2 separate regions of the Homo sapiens genome follow, and region 2 is linked to region 1. Evidence: fine-mapped expression QTL. A gene starts in region 1. The other region holds a variant in brackets. All regions are shown on one strand. Distances are from middle to middle. Region 1 holds the start of ZC3H18 (zinc finger CCCH-type containing 18). Region 2 overlaps ZC3H18 (zinc finger CCCH-type containing 18).

Evidence for each region.
Region 2: its variant is fine-mapped to the expression of ZC3H18 in whole blood (INTERVAL, PIP 0.97).

Annotation. Positions count from the first base shown.
Region 1 is chr16:88,565,296-88,577,495 of GRCh38, forward strand. It overlaps ZC3H18 (zinc finger CCCH-type containing 18), which reads left to right and starts at 5,108. Exons shown (of 18, transcript NM_144604.4): 1 at 5,108-5,271; 2 at 11,815-12,200. The coding sequence starts at 11,829. RefSeq lists enhancers at 4,289-4,398, 4,509-4,558, 5,649-5,698 and silencers at 4,799-5,128, 5,309-5,378.
Region 2 is chr16:88,589,878-88,602,077 of GRCh38, forward strand. ZC3H18 (zinc finger CCCH-type containing 18) reads left to right here. Exons shown (of 18, transcript NM_144604.4): 4 at 8,301-8,449; 5 at 8,743-8,835; 6 at 9,914-10,071. Among named protein-coding and RNA genes, the nearest start is that of ZC3H18, 26 kb to the left of the region's middle. RefSeq lists an enhancer at 1,834-2,083. The variant G/A (reference allele first, on the strand shown) is at 6,996.

The sequences.
Region 1 (12,200 bases):
TCTTCCCTCCCAGTTTCCACCCCCAATTGGCAACAAGTTTTAACTCTTTTCATGGTCTCTTCCGGCATTTTCCCGATCTCCAGTAATATTCATACCAATGTTTCTTGACTTTTTCTTAATAAGGGCACTAGTCACACTCCCAGCAGCAGAGTACGTGATTCTAGTTGCTCCACATTCTTGTGAAAAAAAAAATATGAAATTAATTTTTTAGACCAGTTTTAGGTTTAAAGAAAAATGAGAGGCCAGGCACAGTGGCTCACGCCTGTAATCCCAGCACTTTGGGAGGCTGAGGCGGGTGGATCACGAGGTCAGGAGATCGAGACCATCCTGGCTAACATGGTGAAACCCCGTCTCCACTAAAAAATACACAAAAATTAGCCAGGCGTGGTGATGGGCGCCTGTAGTCCTAGCTACTCGGGAGGCTGAGGAGAATGGCGTGAACCTGGGAGGTGGAGCTTGCAGTGAGCCGAGATTGCGCTACTGCACTCCAGGGTGGGCAACAGAGTGAGACTCCATCTCAAAAAAAAAAAAGAAAAATGAGCAGAGTTCCCCTGTACCCCCAGCACCCCTGCCCATCTCCCCTCTTATTAACACCCTGCACTGGTGCAGAACATTTATTACAATTGAGATAGGAGGCAGGACTTGACTCCAGAGGCAGGGCTTGGAGCTGGGACCAAACAGGACTGGCTAAAACAGGGCAGGGCAGAAGCAGCTTTTTATAAGACACACCAGACTGGGCGCAGTGGCTCATGCCTGTAATCCCAGCACTTTGGGAGCCCAGGCAGGCAGATCACCAGAGGTCAGGAGTTTGAGACCAGCCTGGCCAACATGGTGAAACCCTGTCTCTACTAAAAATACAAAAATTAGCCAGGCATGATGTCCCATGCCTGCAGCCCCAGCTACTCAGGAGATTGAAGCAGAAGAATTGCTTGAGCCCAGGAGACAGAGGTTGTGGTGAGCCGAGATCAGGCCACTGCACTCTAATGTGGGTGACAGAGGGAGACTCCGTCTCAGGAAAAGAAAAAAAAGACACACCCACCAGTGTTCTGTGTCAGTTTACCATCGCCATGGCAACACTCCCACCCCTTTCCATGGCAATGACTCAGTGACCCAGAAGTGACTACTCCTTCCCCAGAAATTTCTGCATAAACTGCCCCTTAATCTGCATGTAATTAAAAGTGGGTATAATGGGTCTGCAGAAGTGCGTTGAGCTGCTGCTCTCTGCCTTCTGGGCAGCCCAGCTCTGCAGGAGCCGTCACGGACCTGCCACACTGCCTCTTCAATCAAGTTGTTCTCTTCTACCTCCGGCTTGTCCTTGAATTCTTTCTTGGGCAAAGCCAAGAACGCTGGCAGGCTAAGCTCCACTTTGGGCCTCACCTGCCCTGCATCACAACCAACCAGCCCGTATCGGGACACGATCATTGACTTAAGTCCACAGTTTACATTACAGTTCACTCTTGGCGTTGTGCGTTATGTGGGTTTTGGCAAATACGTAACGTCCCATAGCTGCCATTATGGGACATTACATATTTGTACTTCTTCATACAGAAGAGTTTTGCCACCCCAGAAATGAGGCTTAAAAGTCATTTACCCACTTCCTGCTCTGGAAGAGGAGGGTCTGTGCTCTCACCGCCTGGCACGCCGTGTTCCATCCAGCCTCTGCTCTCTGAATGGTTTTTAGGCTAAATAAAATGTTTACTAAATATTTTTAAGCACTAATAACAATAACGGCCTTATGCAGTGGCTCACACCTGTAATCCCAGCACTTTGGAAGGCCAAGGTGGGAGGATCGCTTGAGGCCCAGAGTTTGAGACCAGCCTGGGCAACAGAGTGAGACCCCCACCTCTACAAGACCCCCACCTCTACGAAATGAACAAATAAACAAACATGATGGACTCCAGCTTAAAAACAGAACATCCCAACCAGGTCACGCTACTGACTATCAGCCCCCACCGCAGGCTCCGTGGCACTGCCTCCTGGTCACTGCTCCTGGGGCCCCCATCACCGCAGATTCGGCTGCCTGTAATGAGTCGCAGCAACACGAGCCGAAGCATTTGTGTCTGGTTTCTTCTGCGCAACATCCTGCCTCTGAGATCCATGTTGCTTGTAGGGGTAGCGTGTCCTTTTCGTTCCTGTACGATATTCCATTGCATGGGGGTTACACCCCAGCTGGTTCATCGTTCTGTCACTGAAGCACCTTGGGGTTCCTTCTAGTCCGGAGTGTAACGAGTCATGCTGGGGTGAACGATCTTGGATGTGCCTTTTGCTGGACGTAGCAGCTCATCTCTTCCGGGAAGTCACAGAGGAGTAGCACGGCCCAGGTGCCGCCGCACGAAGGCTGCGGTTCCGTGAGCGCCGTCGCAGGCTTCTGGAGCGGGGCCACCATTTTCACTCGAGCACAGGCCGCAGGCTCTGGGTGCCCCACACCCTCAGCAAAACCGCTCATGATTTCAATTTGATAGAAACGTGGACCGGGCGCAGTGGCTCACGCCTGTAATCCCAACACTTTGGGAGGCCGAGGCGGGAGGATCACGAGGTCAGAAGATCGAGACCGTCCTGGCTAACACGGTGAAACCCCGTCTCCACTAAAAATACAAAAAAATTAGCCGGGCGTGGTGGCGGGCGCCTGTAGTCCCAGCTACTCGGGAGGCTGAGGCAGGAGAATCGCTTGAACCCAGGGGGCGGAGGTGGCAGGGAGCCGAGATGGCGCTACTGCACTCCAGCCTGGGCGACAGAGTGAGACTCTGTCTCAAAAAAAAAAAAAAAGAAAGAAAGAAAGAAAAGAAATGTGCCCACCCTGTCTGCTTCTGCACTTGCCTTTGTCATGCAACCTCACAGATGGTCTTCACCCGTTTATTTATATCTGTGTATACACACTGGAGGTTCATGCGTTAGCATTTTTAACAACCGCGATGTTGCAAATGTTGTACCAGATTACTATTACAACAGTACAATCATCTGCTCATCAACATCTGGGTGGTTTTCTGGTTTTTTCCTTTGTTCTTTTTTTTTCTTGAGACGGAGTCTCGCTCTGTTGCCCAGGCTGGAGTGCAGTGGCATGATCTGGGCTCACTGCAAACTCCGCCTCCCGGGTTCATGCCATTCTCCTGCCTCAGCCTCCCGAGTAGCTGGGACTACAGGCGCCCGCCACCACGCCCGGCTAATTTTTTGTATTTTTAGTAGAGACGGGGTTTCACTGTGTTAGCCAGCATGGTCTCGATCTCCTGACCTCGCGATCTGCCCGCCTCGACCTCCCAAAGTGCTGGGATTACAGGCATGAGCCACCGTGCCCGGCTCCTTTGTTCTTTTAGTTATGACTACTAACAGACCTGCTATGTCCTTGTTCATGTCTCATGCCCACGGGCAGATGACACCCCAGTCCGGTGGCCCACCTGTACCACTGGGCATCAGAATCCCCTGAGAGCTCTTCATGGACCACAGGGCCCTGGGACCTCACTCCCAGTCACTGGTGCGGCCACTCTGGGGCAGAGCCCAGGAAGGCACATTGCTAACAACCCCTAGTGATACTGAGGCTGCTTGCCCGGGTCCCACTTGGAGAACCCTGTCGAGGGTGGCACTGCTGGTCACAGGGCACTTCTTTTAACTAACATTGTTTTCCAAAGAGGCTGTGACCAACAGAGTTTACTGTTCATGAAACTCAGATCGCAGACAGGCACGTGTCTGTCACAGCCGGTGCCGGCCGCTCCTTTCCATGGACAGTAACGTCCATGCAGGCTTATGTTCATCAGCTGAGAAAAGGGCACTTGCTGGGTGGGACCTTGTCTTATCGACACATAGAGTCTGCAGAAGGTGCCAACTGGTGTCGCAGGGCTGCTCCTGACACGACCCAAAATCACCAGGGTTGAATTCACATTCCTCTTACGTAACCATAACAAGTTGCTGGGACTACAGGCACGCACCACGGTGCCCTGTTAATTTTTTTGTAGAGACAGGGGTCTTGCTTTGTTGCCCAGGCTGGTCTCAAACTCCTGGAGGAGGTGGTCCTCCCACCTTGGACTCCCAAAGTGCTAGGATTACAGGTGTGAGCCACAGTGCCAGGCCTGTGGTACCTCTTCCAAGGACACTAATCCTATCAGATCAGGACCCCACCCTTATAATCTCATTTAACCTTAATTACTTCTCTAAAGGCCCTTTCTGCAAACACAGTCACATTGGGGATTAAGGCTTCACATACAAATGTTAGGGGGACAGAACTCGGTCCATAGCATGGAGTCGCACAGGTTTTGTCCTTTTGCGATTGGCTTGCTTTACTTAGTATGTTTCCAAGGTTCACCCATGTTGTGGCATGGGTCTGAACTTCACTCTTCTTGATGACTGACTCACACTCCACTGCATGGACAGCCAGCATTTTGTCTGTTCCTCAGTTTGTGGACATCTCGCCCCCTTGTTTCCACCTTGGGGATATGGAGGAAGATGGGATGAGCGAAGCCCTGTGATCCCCAGGACCAGCCACGTCGTTGGCAAGGGTCAGCGCAGGATGAAACCGCCGGCCCCTGGTCTCCGGCCGGGCCCTCCGTCTCTAGAGCAGCTCGCACCGCTGCAGCCCCTGGACGCCCCGGGCTGTGGACGCGCCCGTGGGACACCGCGCTGAGCAGGACACGCGACAGGTCCCCTCACTGGCGCTGCTCGCGTTGAACCGCGCGGGGAGCCAGGCAGCCCACGGGAAAGGTAAGAATTGTTAGGCTTTTAATCTAAAGTCGATACCTCAAAAAATAATTCCGGAGGTAAGCATTTAATATCAACATTCAATAAAGCAGGAAGTATCAGCCCGACGAAGACCGCCTTAAGTTTTCCACTTTGATGAACTCGATCATCCCCGGGGATGAAGAACCCGCCGGCCCAGCCGGAGCCCCGTCACGTGACCCGGCGGCCGCGGGGAGCTCTGTGCGCAGGCGCGGATCCGCACGCCCGCCGCCTGAGAAGCGAACTCCCCGTGGCGCCTGCGCTGTAGCGGGGGTTCGGCTGGCTCGCGCGGGTCCGGGCGCGCGCTGCGGGGGCGGAACCGCGCGGAGGCCGGAAGGAAGCTGGAGGGGGCGGGGCGAGGGAGGGAAGCCCGCCGGCCGTAGGACTACCGTCGCGGCCTGATGACGTCGCACAATGGCCGGCCCCCGCGGGTAGTGGAGCCCGTTTGTTCCGCCCGTGTCGAGCCTGGAGCCAGAACCTGTGAAGAGCGGAAGGGCCAAGGGACGTCTTCTCCACGCCGCTCCGACTCCAGGGGAGCCGTGGCCTCCTCTCCGCCCTAGCGCTGAGGTTAGCTGGGGCCGGGAGGGCGGCGGGAGGCCGGGCCGGCGGCGGCGGGAGGAGGAGGCCGCCGAGGCGGCGGCGGCGGCCGCGGGAGGGAGGCCCGGGAGCCCGGCGCGCCTCCGGCCGTGCGGACCCACCGGCCGAAGCGTGGCCCTCGGGCCCAGGGAAGGGGACCTTGAGACAGGCACCACCCCGAGTTCCGTCCGTAAGCCGGCCCCGCGGTCCTGGGGCGCCCTGGGCGCCCGAGCTCCTCGCGCGCTGCCTCCGCGCCCCGCGGCAGAGTTTATTTTCCTGAAGCTGTCATTTCTCTTCCGGGCCACTCGCGTGGCACATGTGTGCCGCCGGCTAAGGGGCGGTGAGAGGCGCCCAGATTCACCTCCAGAGTAGGTCATCCCGGGCTGCTGCTGGGCTCTTCGGAGAACTTTGAGCTCTTTATGAACCTCCTGGAACTTGCTCCGCAGCTTCAAAGTGTGCACAGGTTGGGCGCAGTGATTGCCCCAAGACGCGCGCCGGTCTCTTAGGAGTATGTAACTTCCTTGCCCCTTGGATTAGGAGATCAGAGGTGCTGGGTCCTTTATATAGACCAACTGCAGCTATAATGCTGGAAGAACTGAAACTTAACAGCCTTACTCCTGCCAAACATTTTTCCTGAATACTTTATGACAACTGAGTTTGCCGGGTAGAGTGGCCGTTTTAAATGAGCTTTGTTCGAACAACGCTAACTCATTTGCAAGAGTAGGTCATTCTTCAGACCCATTTGGGAAAATGGAAGAAGAGAGTGTTTGGCATCTGAAGTACCGTTTGGGGTGTAGCAAGGTGCTCATCATGTCTCCTGTTAGACTCACCTCCAGCCTGTTGTCTGTAGAGTAGTCCTTTCCCGTTCAGTAGTTGGGATTATCCGGGTGAGGTTTGACCTCGGCTGAATCCCGCTTCCCAGCTTTGGGAGGAGAGTCTTTTCCTGATAATTTTACTATCTAAGGGCAGTATGGAGCCCAGCCAGCCCTGGAACCAGTCAAATGTGTCCCAAAGCCGGAAACTCCTCTCCCGTTGTAGGTGGGACATGCTGAAATATTGTAAGAAAGCTTTGTGGAGTCACTCCAGAAAGCAAACAGGTAAGTTAACCTATGGCCTACATCGTGTTTACAGAGATTTGTATTTTGTCACAGCTACAGAGCATCTCAAGGTGAGTACCTCTTTATCAAGGAGTTTAGTGGTCACGCTTGGTCACTTTGCACGTGGGGTCTGTCACCAACCTTGATAACGTTCATTTAGATATTTTAAGTCCATGAGGTTATGAGTCAGAATTTTAACCAGATGTACCAGAACTTAGGCATTCAAATAGGTACTGCTCTGTTGAAAGTAATTGTCCCAAAATGTGCTTGTATTTCATCGGTGCTTCTTTGCCAGAATCTCTTTAGAACTCCTGTTGTGGTAGTAAAAATGTAGTCATATGGGAAAATCAGTCTTATTCAATAGTCACCCTCCAGGTTTGACCAAAAGTTTACTTACGTGGTTGGTAGCTCACCTTATCAGGTGAGACTCTGACTTGCAGCACTTTATCAAAGTGACTAGCTTGAGAGGAGGAAGATTTGCCACCACTAAGAATACCAGAAGACTTCTTTAGGCTTGGAAGGTCATTCGCAATGAGAAGGTCCCCAAACGCTCTGCATTTCAGCAGTGCCGTTGGAGTCTGTGCATCCTCCCAGAGGGGCTGCTCGGAAGGGAGGTAGCACCTGCTCTTTATTATTACTATTATTTTTTGAGACGGAGTCTCACTCTGTTGCCCAGGCTGGAGTGCAGTGGCAGGATCTCGGCTCACCGCAACCTCCTCCTCCTGGGCACTTATTTTAAATTCCTTTCTGGTAGGCAACAGGTAGTTCCTCAATTAACGAGTTTTTTGTCATGTATTCAACAAATATCTATCAAGTATCATCTGCCAAATGCAGAAAGCAACGGAGACGGGACGATGGGCACTTGTTATTTCATTCCTTAGGCAAGTTCACCCATCTGGTGGATCAGAGGACTAAGGATTTAGTTCTAAATTGTGCTGAAAATCTTCAGTTATAGATAGTGTAAGAAGACCAAACTGAGCACAAATTGCAAACGTGGGTATCAGTTGAGACTCTTCTACTGACACCCCTGTCTACACTTCTCATTTCATTGTCTACACTTAAGAGGCCACGTTTCCCTTCGTAGCACCTTATTACTATTTTTTGAAACGGAGTCTCACTCTGCTACCCAGGCTGGAGTGCAGTGGCATGATCTCGGCTCACTGCAACCTCCTCCTCCTGGGTTCAAGTGATTCTCCTGCCTCAGCCTCCTGAGTAGCTGGGACTACAGGCACGTGCCACCATGCCCAGCTAATTTTTGTATTTTTAGTAGAGACAGGGGTTTCACTGTGTTGGCCAAGGTGATCTCGAACTCCCAACCTCGTGATCCTCCCGCTTCAGCCTCCCAAAGTGCTGGGATTACAGGCATGAGCCACCACACCCAGCCAATTGTGTGATTTTTAAAACTAGTTTGAGGAGACATTTAGTTTTGCATAAAAGTTGGTTTATTTAAGAGATCACTTTGTTTCCAAGGTTGACATTAAACTATAAAACATGAGAATCAGAATTTGTCATATTTCAGGTCTGGGTTCAGCTTGGGGCATCCTACTGGGCACCAGGCGCTCCGCTTAGGCAGCTGGGGAGATGTGAACTACCTGCCCTTCTATGAGGAAGATGTTTATACATTGTAATAAAAAGTGTACGAAGATAGTATAGGGTGTTACTAATGTCGATAGCTAGGCAAGAGAGAGAATTGCCAGTTTGCCACCGGTGACTTACTGCCACAACCCCACGCAGACTCCCAGTCTTGAACAGTCAGTGCGTAGAGGCCTTAGCAGCCTTGGTGCTTTTCATCCTTGCTTTTGTTGCCTTGGGCTGCAGAAATGCTCTGTGCATCAAGCGCCCCTGTGATACTGTTTGGGGATCAGCTCCTTGACTTTCCCATTTTCAGCAGTGTATACCAGTTTAGGACTACCTTTAATAAAAAGACGAGGGTCTTACCATGTTATCTAGGCTGGACTCGAACTCTTGGGCTCGAGTGATTCTCCCACCTCAACCACACAAGTAGCCGGGATTCCAGGTACATGCCACCACTCCTGGCTTAGGACTGACTTTTTAATAATTCCTCCCAGTAGTCCTGTCTCTGGATAGTAACCGAATAGTGTACTTAGAAAACCAAAAAGTGAATCATTTTCAGAACTGTCTGCTTTTAAGTGACTTGGAATGGATTGGTTGGTTTGTAAATCTATGTTATTGCTAACCATTTAGGTTTTTTTTTTTGAGACGGAGTTTTGCTCTTTTTGCCCATGCTGGAGAGCAATGACACAATCTTGGCTCACTGCAACCTCCGCCCCCCCGAGTTCAAGCAATTCTCCTGCCTCAGCCTCCCGAGCAGCTGGGATTACAGATGCCCACCACCATGCCCAGCTAATGTTTTGTATATTTAGTAGAGACAAGGTTTCACCATTTTGACCGGGCTTGTCCTGAACTCCTGACCTCAGGTGATCCACCCGCGTCAGTCTTCCAAAGTGCTGGGATTACAGGCGTGAGCCACCACCCTTGGCCCATTTAGTTTTTATAAAGTGATGAATTTTAAATGATTTGAATTTTCTTTTGAGACGGAGTCTCGCTTAGCCACCACCTAGGCTGGAGTGCAGTGGTGTGATCTCGGCTCACTGCAACCACTGTCTCCCAGGTTCAAGCGATTCTCTCGTCTCAGCCTCCCAAGTAGCTTGGATAACAGGCACCTGCTATCATGCCCAGCTAATTTTTGTATTTTAGTAGAGACCGGGTTTCACCATGTTGGCCAGGCTGGTCTTGAACTCCTGACTTCGGATGATCCACCTGCCTTGGCCTCCCAAAGTGCTAGGATTACAGACGCGAGCCACCACGCCTGGCCAGATTTGGGTTTTTTTGGCTTTTTTGTTTTTTGTTTGAGTCAGGGTCTCACTCTGTCACCCAGGCTGAACTGCAGCCTCAACCTCCTAGGATCAGGTGATCCTCCTATCTCAGCCTCCCAAGTAGCTGGGACGACAGGTGCCCTACCACACCCAGCTAATTTTTTTTTTTTTTTTTTTTTTTTTTGGTAGAGATGGGGTTTTGCTATGTTGCCCAAGCTGGTCTAGAACTCCTGGACTCAAGTGATCCGCCCACCTCAGCCTCCCAAAGTGCTGGGATTACAGGCATGAACCACCGCACCTGACCAATTTGTTCTAATGTATCTTTTTTTTTTTTTTTTGAGACGGAGTCTCGCTCTGTCGCCCAGGCTGGAGTGCAATGGCGCGATCTCGGCTCACTCCAAGCCCCGCCCCCTGGGTTCACGCCATTCTCCTGCCTCAGCCTCCCGAGTAGCTGGGAACACAGGCACCCGCCACCACACCCGACTAATTTTTTGTATATTTAGTAGAGACGGGGTTTCACCGTGTTAGCCAGGATGGTCTCGATCTCCTGACCTCGTGATCCACCCGCCTCGGCCTCCCAAAGTGCTGGGATTACAGGCGTGAGCCACCGTGCCCGGCCTCTAATGTGTACTTAATCTTAATGATTTCCATTAACAGCAAAAAAAAAAAATGTTTAACTGTAGGTTGATACCAATTCTTGATACTGTGCATCTTTAAACAGGTTGTATTAAAAGTATAAATTTAAAAGATGAATATTTTTATCTTTAGTGTGTATGGTTATTTGAGATACAAGACATATAAATGTGTATGTGTATGACTTGCTGCGTCCGTAGTTATCTTGAGATGAATAATCTGTTTCCAGACCTTGCCGAGATGCCGAGCAGTGTGACCGTGACATACGTTATTTTAACAGCCTCACAGACTGAACAGTCAAGTGACCGCTGACCTGGCACTGTCCCTGCTGCTCCACACTCACTTGGTGGTGACTAGCTGCCCTGGTAGTGGTGGTGTGGCAAGTGTTTGCCAGGCAGGTGTTGCCGTTCTACACCTTCCTACCCGTCTTAACACCGTCCACTTTTAAAGCATGGGTAGCAGTGTACTTTCTATGAGTTTTTGAGGAGGGAAACTCGAAAATATTAACTTTATAATTTAATCTGGATTAGTAAAAATAGGAATGAAGTCTGAAGTGACCCCGTCTTTTTTTGTTTTTTGAGTTTTTTTTGGAGATTGGTCTCACTCTGTTGCCCAGGCTGAAGCACATTGATGCAGTCTTGGCTTACTGCAGCCTCCACCTCCTGGGCTTAAGCGATCCTCCTGCGTCAGACTCCCAAGTAGCTGGGAATATAGGCACGCACCACCACACTCTGTGACTTAGTTTTTGTTTGTTTGTTTGTTTTTGTTTTTGTTTTGAGACGGAGTCTCACTCTGTCGCCCAGGCTGGAGTGCGGTGGCGCGATCTCAGCTCACTGCAAGCTCTACCTCCTGGGTTCACGCCTTTCTCCTGCCTCAGCCTCCTGAATAGCTGGGACTACAGGCGCCTGCCACCACGTGCAGCTAAGTTTTTGTATTTTTCATAGAGACGGGGTTTCACCGTGTTAGCCAGGATGGTCTCGATCTCCTGACCTCATGATCCACCTGCCTCGGGCCTCCCAAAGTGCTGGGATTACAGGTGTGAGCCACCGCGCCTGGCCTGAATTTTAGTATTTTTTTTTTACAGAGACAGGGTCTCACCATGTTGCCCAGGCTGGTCTCGAACTGCTGGGCTCAAATGATCCTCCCGTTGCAACCTCCCAAAGTGCTGAGATTGTAGATGCGAGCCACCGTACCTGGCCAGCCTCGTCTTTTACATACGCGCGGTACTTAAGTGTGTCAAGTTTCCTGCCAGAGTTCTTTTCGACAGCAGCTACCTGTATGGGAAGAGGGGTTCTCAACTTAGGAGTGTGAGTTGCTGAGCGGGTGAACACAGCCCTCTCGACACCTGCTGGAGGGGCCAGTGAACACGCAGGCAGGGCTCTGAGCCTGCATTGCTAAAGGGCAGCCAAGGGATTCTCGGAGGCCCTCAGAGGCTGGCCTTCGAGAAGTGTGTTCAGTAACAGAAAAGGCTCCAGACTTGGACACTGCCGAAGGCTGGCCCAGGTTCCTGCTTCAGGATGACTCCAGAAAAATGGTGAGATCTGGGCCTGCAGTTTTGCTTCCTCGTTCCATGATACAGTTTATCTTTAATTTCAAAAGTAAATACTCCTCTAAGAATTCACACAGCTGTCCTTTGCGATCCGTATCGTTACTCACTTTCTGTTAACTCGTGTGGGCTGCCCTTGAGCGGGGAAGGGCTAGGCCAGGCTGCGTCTCCTTCTGCCACATCTCATTTTGCCAGATTGCCAAAAACGGGAGGCACTTAACACCCAGCTTAGCTGAGCAGTCTAGCCTTGTGGAGTGGAGTTATGGCCTGTCTTTCTCTGCAGAGTGGAGTGTGGGATTTGGGGCAGGGCCGTGTGGGACCAAGCAGGATGGAAGTCCTGCTGCTTCAGGCCAGGAAAGTAGGGACAAGGTTTGTTTTCCATTTTGCTAAAGGCTGTCAATCTGTATTCTCTCTTTTGCAGAACCGTGGGTACCGATGGATGTGGCCGAGAGCCCTGAACGGGATCCTCACTCTCCAGAGGATGAAGAGCAGCCACAGGGACTCTCGGACGATGACATTCTGAGGGACAGCGGGTCCGATCAGGATTTGGACGGGGCGGGGGTGAGGGCTTCTGATCTGGAGGATGAGGAAAGTGCAGCCAGGGGGCCGAGCCAGGAGGAGGAAGATAATCACTCCGACGAGGAGGACCGGGCAAGTGAGCCTAAATCCCAAGACCAGGACTCAGAGGTGAATGAGCTGAGCCGGGGCCCGACCAGCTCCCCCTGCGAGGAGGAGGGGGACGAAGGGGAGGAAGACCGGACAAGCGACCTTAGGGATGAGGCCTCCTCAGTCACCAGGGAGCTGGAT
Region 2 (12,200 bases), 25 kb after region 1:
TGATGCTTACACAACTTTGTGAATATACTGCAAACCAGTGAATTGTACACATTAAATGGGAGTATTTTATGTTATGTGAATTGTGTCACAATTAGAAAATTCTTTTCTTAGAAAAAAGTCGGTGGCTGGGCATGGTAGCTCATACCTGGAATCCTAGCACTTTGGGAAGCTGAATGGGGAGGATCACTTGAGCCCAGGAGTTAGAGACCAGCCTGGGCAACATTGCAAGAGCTCATCTTTCTTTTTTAAATTACTTGTAGAGATGGGATCTCACTATATTGCTCAGGCTGGTCTCAAATACTAGGCTCAAGCAATCCTTCCACCTCAGCCTCCCAGAGTATGGGGATGACAGGCATGAGCCACTGCTCAGGCCTCTCTTAGCTTTATCTCCGACACGTTGTGATATAGAGATTAATCATTTAATCGCTTAGTGGACACATTGAGATTTGTGACCAAATGACAGCAAAATGCACTGGGAACACACCTTGCTCACATTTTAGAGATCAGTGCTTTGTGTACGCCTGCCCGGCTCCACAGCACATACACTACAACTGGAGCTGTACTTCTTCATGGGATGTTTTTATCTCTCGTGGGCCTGTGTTGGATCATCAGGACACAAAGTTCTGTCCACAGAGGAGTAAGTAGCATCTTCTTTAAACTGTGTCCCACTTTGGGTTTCTTTATTTCTTTTTTTTTTTTTTTTGAGACAGTGTCTCGCTCTGTCACCCGGGCTGGAGTGCAATGGTGAGATCTCGGCTCGTTGGAACCTCCACCTGGGTTCAAGCTATTCTTCTGTCTCAGACTCCCGAGTAGCTGCGATTACAGGCATCTGCCACCACCCCCAACTCATTTTTGTATTTTTAGCAGACATGGGGTTTCATCATGTTGGCCAGGCTGGTCTCGAACCCCTGACCTCAGGTGATCCGCTCACCTCAGCCTCCCAGAGTGCTGGGATTACAGGTGTGAGCCACCACACCCGGCCCCTACTTTGGGCTTCTGATTTATCCCTCAGTGAACAAGCATCCCAGTCCATTTTTTGGGTCTGATCTCCTTGGCTGTGCTCCCCCTAATTTTTTAAAATTGTGGTGGAATACTTTTTTTTTTTTTTTTTGAGATGGAGTCTTGCTCTGTCACCCAGGCTGGAGTGCAGTGGCACCATCTCGGCTCACTGCAAGCTCTGCCTCCTGGGTTCACGCCATTCTCCTGCCTCAGCCTCCTGAGTAGTTGGAACTACAGGCGCCCGCCACCACGCCCAGGTAATTTTTGTAGTTTTTGGTAGAGACGGAGTTTCACTGTGTTAGCCAGGATGGTCCCGATCTCCTGACCTCGTGATCTGCCCTCCTCGGCCTCCCAAAGTGCTGGGATTACAGGCGTGAGTCACTGCACCTGGCCTTCTGTCTTTTTAAGACTGAATAATAGGTGCGGTGGCTGATGCCTGTAATCATAGCACTTTGGGAGGCCGAGGTGGGTGGATCACTCAAGGTTAGGAGTTCGAGACCAGACTGCTCAACATGGTGAAACCCTGTCTCTACTAAAAATACAAAATTAGCTGGGGGTGGTAGAGCACACCTCTAATTCCAGCTATTTGGGAGGCCAAAGCAGGAGAATCGCTTGAACCCAGTAGGTGGAGGTTGCAGTGAGCCAAGATCACACCACTGCACTCCAGCCTGGGCAACAGAACGAGACTCCGTCTCCAAAAAAAAAAAAAAAGATTGACCAATATTTGTTAGTGTGGAGCAGCTGCATTGGGTGTTTCCCTCATCTGTGGGTGGACACTTGGGTGGTTTCCACCTCTAGGCAATTGTGAATAGAGCTGCTGTGAACGTGGGCGTAAAAATCTCTTCAGACCCTGCTTTCAGCTCTTTCGCATGTGCCTGGCAGTGGAGTTGCTGATGACCTGGTGGTTGTGTGTTTCATCTTTTGTGGAACTGCTGGCAGCGGAGTTTCTGATGACGTGGTGGTTGTGTGTTTCATCTTTTGAGGAACCGCTGGCAGTGGAGTTGCTGATGACCTGGTGGTTGTGTGTTTCATCTTTTGAGGAACCGCTGGCAGCGGAGTTTCTGATGACCTGGTGGTTGTATGTTTCATCTTTTGAGGAACCGCTGGCAGCGGAGTTGCTGATGACCTGGTGGTTGTGTGTTTCATCTTTTGCGGAGCCGCTGGCAGTGGAGTTGCTGATGACCTGGTGGTTGTATGTTTCATGTTTTGAGGAGCCGCCAAGCTGTCTTCCACAGTGGCTGTGCCATTTTACTTTCCCACCAGTGGTGTGGGGGCTTCCAGTTTCTCCACGTCCTCACCATTACTCTGTTCTCTGTTTTTTTTTGATAGTAGCCATTTCAGTGGGTAGGAGGTAATATCTTACTGGGTTTTGATCTGCCTTTCCTGAAGATGGGTGGTGGGGTGTCTTTTTTCATGTGCTTAATAGGTCATTTGTGTATCTTCTTGGAGAAATGTCTTTTGCTCAGTTTTGAATCCTTGCAAAACTGTGTTTAAAGCAGCAGGTCTGAGTGTCATCTGTGAACCCCTGGGAGTCCTTGAGACCCTTTCAGGGGACCCTGAGGTCAAAACTATATTTATTTATTTTTCTTTTTCTTTCATTTTATTTTACTTTTGTGAGATACAGTCTCCCTCTGTTGCCCAGGCTGGAGTGCAATGGCGTGATCTCAGCTCACTTGCAACCTCCACCTCCCGGGTTCAAACGATTCTCCTGCCTCAGCCTCCCGAGTAGCTGAGATTACAGGCGCATGCCACCATGCCTGGCTAATTTTTGTATTTTAGTAGTGGCTAAATTTTGTGTTTCAGTTGGTCAGGCTGGTCTCGAACTCCTGACCTCAAATGATCCGACCGCCTTGGCCTCCCAAATCGAAACTATATTTATAATAACAGTAAGGCTGAGCCAGGCATTCACCATGCACTGGCATTTCGAATGCCACTTTACTTCATGTCTGTGCTGTAGTAGTAAGAACTGTAATTTAATTAAATCTTACACTTGTGTACAGATGTATTATTTATTTTTATTATTCGTAAGTTCTTTTTAAAAAACTTTATTAAAGTAATATTTATGTGCCATGAAATTGACCCATTTTAAGTGTACAGTTCCATGATTATATAAGCATATCCCTATGATAAAGTTTAATTTATAAGTTACGCACAGTAAGAGATTAACAACAATAGCCAATCATAAAATAGAGCAATTGTAATAAAAATGTGAATGTGATCTCTCAAAAGAGCTCACTTTACTGCACTCAGCCACTCAGCCATCTGATGACGTGGGATGAAATATGCTCGCATGATGACACGGAGGCCCTGCCACTTAGCATTGGGCCCCCCTTGACCTCCTGCCAATGCGTCAGAAGGAAGGTCACCTGCCCCCAGTGATCCTGGGTCACTGAGCCACAGTGAGCACAGCACCGCCGTACCCCCAACGGTTGTTGGCCAAGAGGGCTGCTAAGTGACTAGTGGGCAGTTAGCGTCGTGGACAGCTTGCATCTGCTGGACAAAGGGATGATTCGTGTCCCAGGTGGGGCAGAGGAGGTCGGCACAAGATTTCATCACGCTGCTCAGCACAGAACATCATTTAAAACTTAGGAATTATTTTTGGAATTTTCGATTTAGTATTTTCAGACGCAGGTAACTGAAACTGTGGAAAGCCAGAAAGCAGAGCTTCTGTGTGTGTCTCAGTACTCAGCGTGGTGGAGTGGCAGCGTGGGTAGAGCCCCTGCCGGCACCCAAGTCCAGCGGCCTCAAGGGGCAGCACGTGCAAGGCTGGAGCTGCGGCTGACCCTGTGCGCTCTCCGTGGAGCACACATTGATGAGAAAGACTGGCAGACATGCCAGGGAATGCAGATCCGGGTCCTGGCAGGAACAAAGTGAGCCTGTGGCTTCAAGGAGAACAACGGACAGTGTTAGCAGTATTAAAATTGGAGCTTTCAGTTGAAAATTGGACTTTTGTGTGCTCACCAGCTTCTCAGTGTGTCAGGACTTTCTCAGGTGACCATTGCAGGATGTCACAGAATCATGCCTGGGTAAAAGACCCATTCAAAGTTCAAGATAGACCAATGGATTTCAGAAGAACCAAGTTGGAAAAGTGTGGTGATAGGGTTCAATTGCAGCTCGCTGTAAGGAGCCTTCCCTTGCTGAGTGCGGTGTCAGGGAGAAGCTCTGAGCACACTGAAAAGGCTTTTAGATGCCCCTCCCTCTCTAGCTGCATCTCTTCCTGGGGCTGTAATGTCCTCTCCTGCTTGAGCCACAGCGGCCCTTCATGGTCGATCGCATGCAGATGGGAGGCCAGGGGTTTTCCAGGGTCAGCATTCAAGAGATTCGCAAAAAGGCAAAGAATGCTATTCCTCTCACCAAATATTTTAAAAACAGTTTCATAAATATTTGTTACTATATATTGGATATCTTGTTATTGTTAAATAATGAGATATCTTTAAGTGTCTCTTAATTTCTAATATCGTACGTATCAATAGAAATGACACATATAAACCAAGTAAACACAGGGAATTGATATTTACTGTATTCAAAATCAGAAGAGACATTTAAAGATACTTCATGTGTGGGCTGTGCTGGAGCATGAGCTGAGCCTCAGTTCCTGCCACCTCTGTGTTTAGTTTCCGGATTTTCCATGTTTCCTATCTGTTTCCTGTCTGTTTCCCTGATCCAGTTTGGGTTGGTTGCTACTGAGCATGCAGGTTCCCTTTCTGTAGTTACATTGTTTAGTGAAAAAAAGCAAGGTTCAGCACAGAGCATAATATATATGCTCAGGTAAAAGGGGGCAATGATTGATGGATGGAGCCCCAGTATATTGATAACTGCCTCTGGGAATGGCCCTGGAGGCATGGGATAGGTGGTCAACTTCACAGTGTACCTTTTAGAGTGGGTGGGTATTTTTTATTTACAAGTATTTCATTTGATTATGAAATATTTCATATATATAAAATAATACAGTGTTTACACAAGCGTAAAGATTAATAAGAGAATAAAACAGTTGGCTGGGCGTGGTGGTTCATGCCTGTAATCCCAGCACTTTGGGAGGCCGAGGCGGGCGGATCACCTGAGGTCGCAAGCTCAAGACTAGCCTGACCAACATGGAGAAACCTCGTTTCTACTAAAAATACAAAATTAGCCAGGCGTGGTGGTGCATGCCTGTAATTCCAGCTACTCGGGAGGCTGAGGCAGGAGAATCACTTGAACCTGGGAGGCGGAGGTTGCAGTGAGCTGAGATTGTGCCATTGCACTCCAGCCTGGGCAACAAGAACAAAACTCCATCTCAAAAAAACAAAAACAAAACAAAAGAAAAACCAGTTGCTGCTGTGCCGACATTCCAGTTAAGAAAAAGACCATCATCCTGTCTTGAAGCCAGAAATAGTACTTAGACATTTCAGCAGTGGAGGGGCCGCCTCCGCCCCGCTCCAGCGGCCTCTGTCCCTCCTTGTCCTCTTCTGGCCTGAGGCCATGTCTGTGTACACAGTATCCGCAGAACTATCTTTATACTGTTAGAATCACAATCCACATAAATTTTGGGTTTGAAGTCCCATTTGTAAACCAGAAGATCTTTATTGTTGCTTCTATTTTCTGGATAATTTCTTTCTTTCTTTTTTTTTTTTTTTTTTTTAACAAATTGCTTTTTAAATTATGAAAGTAAGGCTGGGGACGGTAGCTGACACCTGTAATCCCAGCTCTTTGGGAGGCCGAGGTGGGCGGATCACCTGACTTCAGGAGTTTGAGACCAGCCTGGCTAACATGGCGAAACCCTGTCACTACTAAAAATACAAAAATTAGCCGGGCTTGGTGGTGCACACCTGTAATCCCAGCTACTCGGGAGGCTGAGGCAGGAGAGTTGCTTGAACTGTGAGGCAGAGGTTGCAATGAGCCTAGGTCGCTCCACTGCACTCCAGCCTGGGCAACAGAGCGAGACTCCATCTCAAAAAAAAAAAAATTAAAAAAAGGAAAGAAAGTAATATGGGCTGGCAGAAGGCAAGAAAATAAAATCTAAAGCCCCTTCCCACATTCCCGACAGTTGGGTGTGTTCCTACACAGATAAAAGTTCACATTTTAAAAAGATAGATGGGACAATGGTGTTCTTTCTGCCTGACGTCTGCTGGAAGTGTGTCCCAGCTAGACGTGCAGACCAACTGTGCTGCTTTCCAGAGCCATCTTCCCCTTTACTCTGGCCAGGGGCAGGACAGCGCTCAGCACCCCCGGGCAGGTGGCTCCCGAGAGCTGAACACTGTCACCCACTAGTGTCTGGTCTCTAGTGGCAGCCCCACGCTCGCCTTCTCAGCTTGCTCTTTGGCGCTCACTGGTTTGTTCTCTTCTGCCTTGTTCCTCTTTTCTCCCCATGCCAATATCAGTGAGAAAGGATCTTTTTTGATAGTAGGTTCGTAGGTGATGTCCTAAAAATTTTCATAAATACAGAAAAGAACGATAACATTTAGCCACCACCCAGATACATATTTTAGATGAAAAAGAAGTACAGAGGCCGAGTGTGGTGGTTCACGCCTGTAATCCCAGCACTTTGGGAGGCCGAGGCTGGCAGATCACAAGGTCAGGAGTTCGAGACCAGCCTGACCAAGTTGGTGAAGTCCCGTCTCTACTAAAAATACAAAAATTAGCCTGGCATGGTGGTACCCGCCTGTAATCCCAGCTACTCAGGAGGCTGAGGCAGGAGAATCACTGACACCCAGGAGGTGGAGGTTGCAGTGAGCCGAGATTGCATCATTGCACTCCAGCCTGGGACTGTCTCACTCAGTCAGAGTGAGACTCCATCTGAAAAAAAAAGGAAAAGGAGTACAGAAAAGCTGTGGTTTCTATTGTCAGCACTTTTCTGTACTTGGACATTTTTTACAATGAGCTTTTGTTACTTGTTTAGTTACACACGTGATTTTGAATACTGCATGAGTATTTTCAGAGGCAAACCATGAAGAGCTCTGTAGTGTGTTGAGTCTCAGATGGATGACTGCATAGTCAGTTTTTCTTTAAATCTCTCTGAG[G/A]CTCTGGATTTTTGAACCCCCTATAGAATAACATTTCCCAACCTCTTTTGTTTTTTGTTGTTGTTTTTGAGAGAGACTCGCTCTGTTGCCCAGGCTGGAGTGCAGTGGCACGATCTCGGCTCACTGCAAGCTCCACCTCCTGGGTTCACGCCATTCTCCTGCTTCAGCCTCCCAAGTAGCTGGGACTACAGGCACCTGCCACCACGTCCGGCTAATTTTTTGTATTTTTTAGTAGAGACGGGGTTTCACCATGTTAGCCAGGATGGTCTTGATCTCTTGACGTCGTGAGCCACCACGCCTGGCCTCCCAACTTCGTTTGACTTATGTGTGATCTCTGAAATGCTTTTAGAAATTTTAAAAATTACTTGTCATTTTTGCATTTCCAGAGAAGCAGTTTTAAGTTTTCTTTCGTGTTTAATTTGGATCGATATTGTTATTATGTTGTATTGAGTTGGTTTTAATGCAGGCTTAAGTGTTCCTGATGTTTAAGGTTAAAATTTTAAATGATTTAAAATCTAACTGCATGTTAACCCATTGAAAAAAATTTTTAAACCGCTTAGATACTATATGCCATATTTGGTTTTAAACAATGTGTACACATTATCTATTCCCAAAAAAGTACATTTTAAAAAAGTGATTCACTCAGTAATTGAGTTAGACACTTAGATGTCTTATATTCTACACTTGAAAGTCGAGGTCTCCTTTACTAACCCGGATATTCTGTTGAAGATGAAGGTTTGTGATTGTTATTTATGAGCAAAGTGTAAAAGCCCGTTTCAGTTCCAGAAATATCTTGAAATGCCCTGTGAGAGTTTTCTCTGTGAGAGAAATGCAGACGTACAGAGGTGGCCAAGGGGACCCTGAGCACACCTGCAGGCTTCTGATCATTGTTAATGCTTCTCATTGATGTCTGTTTCGGCACAAATACAATTAACATCCAGTTGTACCTAGATGAGCCTGGGCCAGGGCTGGAAGCAAAGCTCTGGGGCTTTTCTGGTTTAAGGGGAAAATTAATACTCAGACAGTTGATACGCGTGAACTCTCCACAAAGTGACTTTGTGGTCACTCTGACCGAGGTGCCTGGCAGCCTCTGGGGAACTGCCGTGCCTGGGCAGGTGCAGCTGTCTGGCTCAGCCTCTCCAGGCTCATCCCGCCCACCTCCCCGTTCAGTTCCCACTACTGTGTGGCTCGCCATCAGGCCTGGGTAAACATGGCCTCTGCCCCCTCCCACCCCCCACCCCAGCAGCTGCCCTTGTGCAATTAGGCTCTTGTGGACCCTTTCTGATCTCACTTTTGTTTCCATAGGGAACTGTACCTGGGGAATGAATTGTAGGTTTATACACCCTGGAGTGAACGACAAGGGGAACTACTCCCTAATCACCAAAGCCGACCCCTTCCCGCCTAATGGTGCCCCGCCTCTCGGACCTCACCCGCTGATGCCCGCCAACCCTTGGGTGCGTGATGCCTCTTCTTTCATTGTTAGCACATCAGCCAACTGAGCTGTGTCTGAATCTCAAGCTTAAGACAAGTCACTGTGCCTTAGCACAGGCTCAGTGCCCCCTTTCGGCTGCTTCTGTCGTCCCGAGTGGAAGCAGGCCTCGGCTTTCCGAGGACGGAGTGAGGCTTGGTGGAAGGAGAGCGGCCACACACGGCCGGCTTGTGTTGTAGTTGATGTTTTTACTGTCTGGTTTCTCTGTACACTTGAAAGTTTTACTTTCTCACCTTCTCCCTTCTCGTTTTTCAATAGGGTGGGCCGGTAGTTGATGAAATTTTGCCTCCACCCCCTCCAGAGCCCCCAACAGAGAGTGCCTGGGAACGAGGACTCCGGCATGCAAAGGAGGTAAACACAATTCAGCAGAAATCCCGACAAGAAAGATGCTATTACAGGAGTGGTTCTTGACAAAACTGGGATTTCCTCGGTCCAGAGAGAGCCCCAGAAATCTCTGAAGTTAGGCGTCTGTTTCTGTGGTGTCTTTCTTTATTTTTTATTTATTTATTTTTTTGGAGACAGAGTTTCACTCTTGTTGCCCAGGCTGGAGTGCAATGGCCCAAACTCGACTCACTGCAGCCTCCGCCTCCCAGGTTCATGTGATTCTCCTGCTCGGCCTCCCAAGTAGCTGGGATTACAGGCATGCGCCACCAGGCCCGGAAGGATGGAGAGTTATATCTAACTGTCTCAGGCAGCAGCCCAGTAGGCCAGGGAGTTCAGTCCAGGGCATACCCACTGTCTTCATGGGGCTGGATCAGCACTGGGCCACACCCCAGCTGGCACTGCCCAGGAGCACAGGGTGCAGTCTCCAGCCACTCACAGAAAGCCTGGCGAGGCTGCCCGAGCCGCACCCCCAGGATCTGCACCCCACACTCCTGAGACTCAGTGTCTGCTCTTCCTGGAGAAAACTTGGAGCTTTCTGGTCCTATCACTGCACACTTCCTCCCTCTAGGCCCACGTTGGCCCCAGTGTGTGAGCTTCAGCTCTGGGGACCACTCTGCTGGCACCCAGCCCCACTTCCTCATTTTCCTGGTCAGCCTCCCTGCTGGGAAATGACGGACAAGATGTTCCTTCTCACTCCCTCGGCATGTCACTTCCTTCCCTCTGAGACTCCAGCCACTCCACCTGCTGCTTGTCACTGAGTGACTGAACCCTGGATCTAGTTCCAAGGGTAGTTGAAGGAAGTGATGAACACCTCATGTGGGCACACGGAGGCCGGGGGCAGCTGTTTGTGCAGAGACGGGCACAGACTGCCCTCCCCAGAAGGACAACTGTGCTGTGTCCGCCCCTCACCCCTTGAGCACTTGCAGCGTGCAGCTCCTGCTCCTGCAGGGCTGCTGCGGTCGGGTGGGACGGCTCCCTTTGTGTTTCCTAACAGCGACGCCCGGTATTCTGTTCCATGTTGACTTCTTTCTTCTTACAATGGTAGGTTTTAAAAAAAGCAACTATTCGAAAAGAACAGGAGCCTGATTTTGAAGAGAAAAGGTTTACGGTGACCATTGGCGAAGACGAACGGGAATTTGACAAAGAAAATGAAGTTTTTCGAGATTGGAATTCTCGGATCCCGAGAGATGTCAGAGACACAGTGTAAGGAATGGCCCTGCCTGCCCCTCCGTTTCCTTCCTGCATGCGGCCACGCTCCGGAGAGAGCAGCCATGTGCAGGGCCCCAGGGTGCGCTCGGCTGAGACCCAGCCCCACTCACTGGAGTCTCAGTGACGTTCCTGAGAGCATTCAGGCACGGTTCTCAGAGCTCATCTCAGTTTTTTGCTTCTAGGAAGGAAGCGTTAGGGCTCTGTGCCATGGGCCTTGACTGGCAGCACTCACACCGTTGTGGTTCCTGAGCTCTGAGAGTTTTCGCTGCTGTCCTTGAGGCCTCTAGAGCCCCACAAGTCTGTGTTTCTGGCTCCTCACCCCTGCCCACATTACCCAGGAGCCAGGAAACGTGTGGAGGTTGCCACAAGCCAGGAACACAACAGCTGCGGCCTCTTCGCTGTCAGGGCTGTTCTGCCTTCACTGCTTCTCCTCCAGGGCATTGATGGCTGGTTTTTGTTTTTTGGTTTTTTTTCCCGAGGCAGAGTCTTGCTCTGTCGCCCAAGCTGGAGTGCAGTTGCGCAATCTTGGCTCACTGCAACCTCCGCCTCCCTGGGTTGAAGTGATTCTCCTGCTTCAGCCTCCTGAGTAGCTGGAACTACAGGTGTCTGCTACCACACCCAACTCAGTTTTGTGTTTTTAGTAGAGATGGATTTCACCATGTTGGCCAGGATGGTCTCGAACTCCTGACCTCAAGTGATCCACCCACGCCTGCCTCCCAGAGTGCTGGGACTACAGGCGTGAACCACTGCACCCAGCCCCTTTATGCCTGGTCTTTAAAAATCCTGTCTTAACAGAAGAAGTGCCTGGGTCGAAGGGTGGAAGTCAGATCTTGGGGGATTGCATGGCATATAAAGTGCTGTTTTCCTCTGCCTGTGGATGGCACGGTGAGGTTCAGGGCAGGGAACTGGATTATAATTCGGGCAGATCTGAATTGGCACTCCATCATGCTGAGGCTTTAGCAGCCCTGTACATTTCTGGTTGCTATTAGGGAATCATAATCACTATGATTTCTATCTGGAGTGACAATAAACGGTGCTCAAAAAAGGAAGGCGTGCAGGGCTTGCACTCCAGGATTTGGTCCTGTCGACTTGGCCCTGCAAGGCCCTTCTCAAGGCCTTCTTGCCGCGAGCAGGCTACCCTGGGCTTTCCGCCTGCGGAAGTTGGGGGAGGAAGCCCCAGTGGCCCACACCTGCCCCAGCAGGTGAGAGCTTAGAGGTTAAAGGGATAGGTATTTAAAGACTTGGTTAACATGTACATTTTCTAATTAAGTTTTGTGTGGAATGTCAGATCACAGAAAGGAGCATTTGAGTCAGAACTCTGCAGGATCACCAGGGGTGTCTCCTGAAGCCCTGGAGGCCTTTGTGTTTTTTTGTTAGATGTGGATATCGTCTTTCCTTCCCCAGAGCTCGTGTGCACAGAGGTCTCTATAAATATGTGTGGGGAAGGATGGATTTTAGAACCTGGGCGTGATCCTTGACACTCTATTTCCAGTTTCCCTGGCTGGAGCAGGGACCGGAAAACTGCCTGCTTGGAAGTGGTTCGGCAGGTCTCTGAGGTTTTTTGGAGTGCCCTCTGTGTGTGTTTTACCTATCAGTGTTGGTTACAGAAACAGGTGTCTCCCATCCTGGCACCAGGTGACAGAAGCTGGCTCCTGGCTCCCTAGCTTCTCTCCCAGGAGCCGGTATCTACACTGCAGGACCCCCAAATGTTAAAGTCTCGGCAGTCAGGGCTGAAAGGTTTTCACTGGTGTCTGAAAGCCAGGTATTTCTGTATGTTTGTATTTTGTTTGTTTTTATAGAGTAGCCTCTGTGTATGTTACAGTTAACCTGAGGCCTTTTGTGCCATGCCTCCCCCGAGACCTGGTGAGTCAGGACCTCTGGGAACAGGGTCAGGGTGCATGTGTCACAGTGGCGAGGTGCCCTGGCTGTTTCTGATAGACACAGTGGAAAGAACTGTCAGGGTTCTGCCAGGAGGGTGGAGACCCCCCTATGATTGTCACAAAGAGCATCTAAGGGAAGGGTGGGTCCACCAGGTAGGTTGCTACAGAGGAAAACAGTGAGTAGAGGGAGCCAGTACAGCTGGGCTGCTGAGACCCGGAGGGAAGGAAGGAGCTGCACTGCAA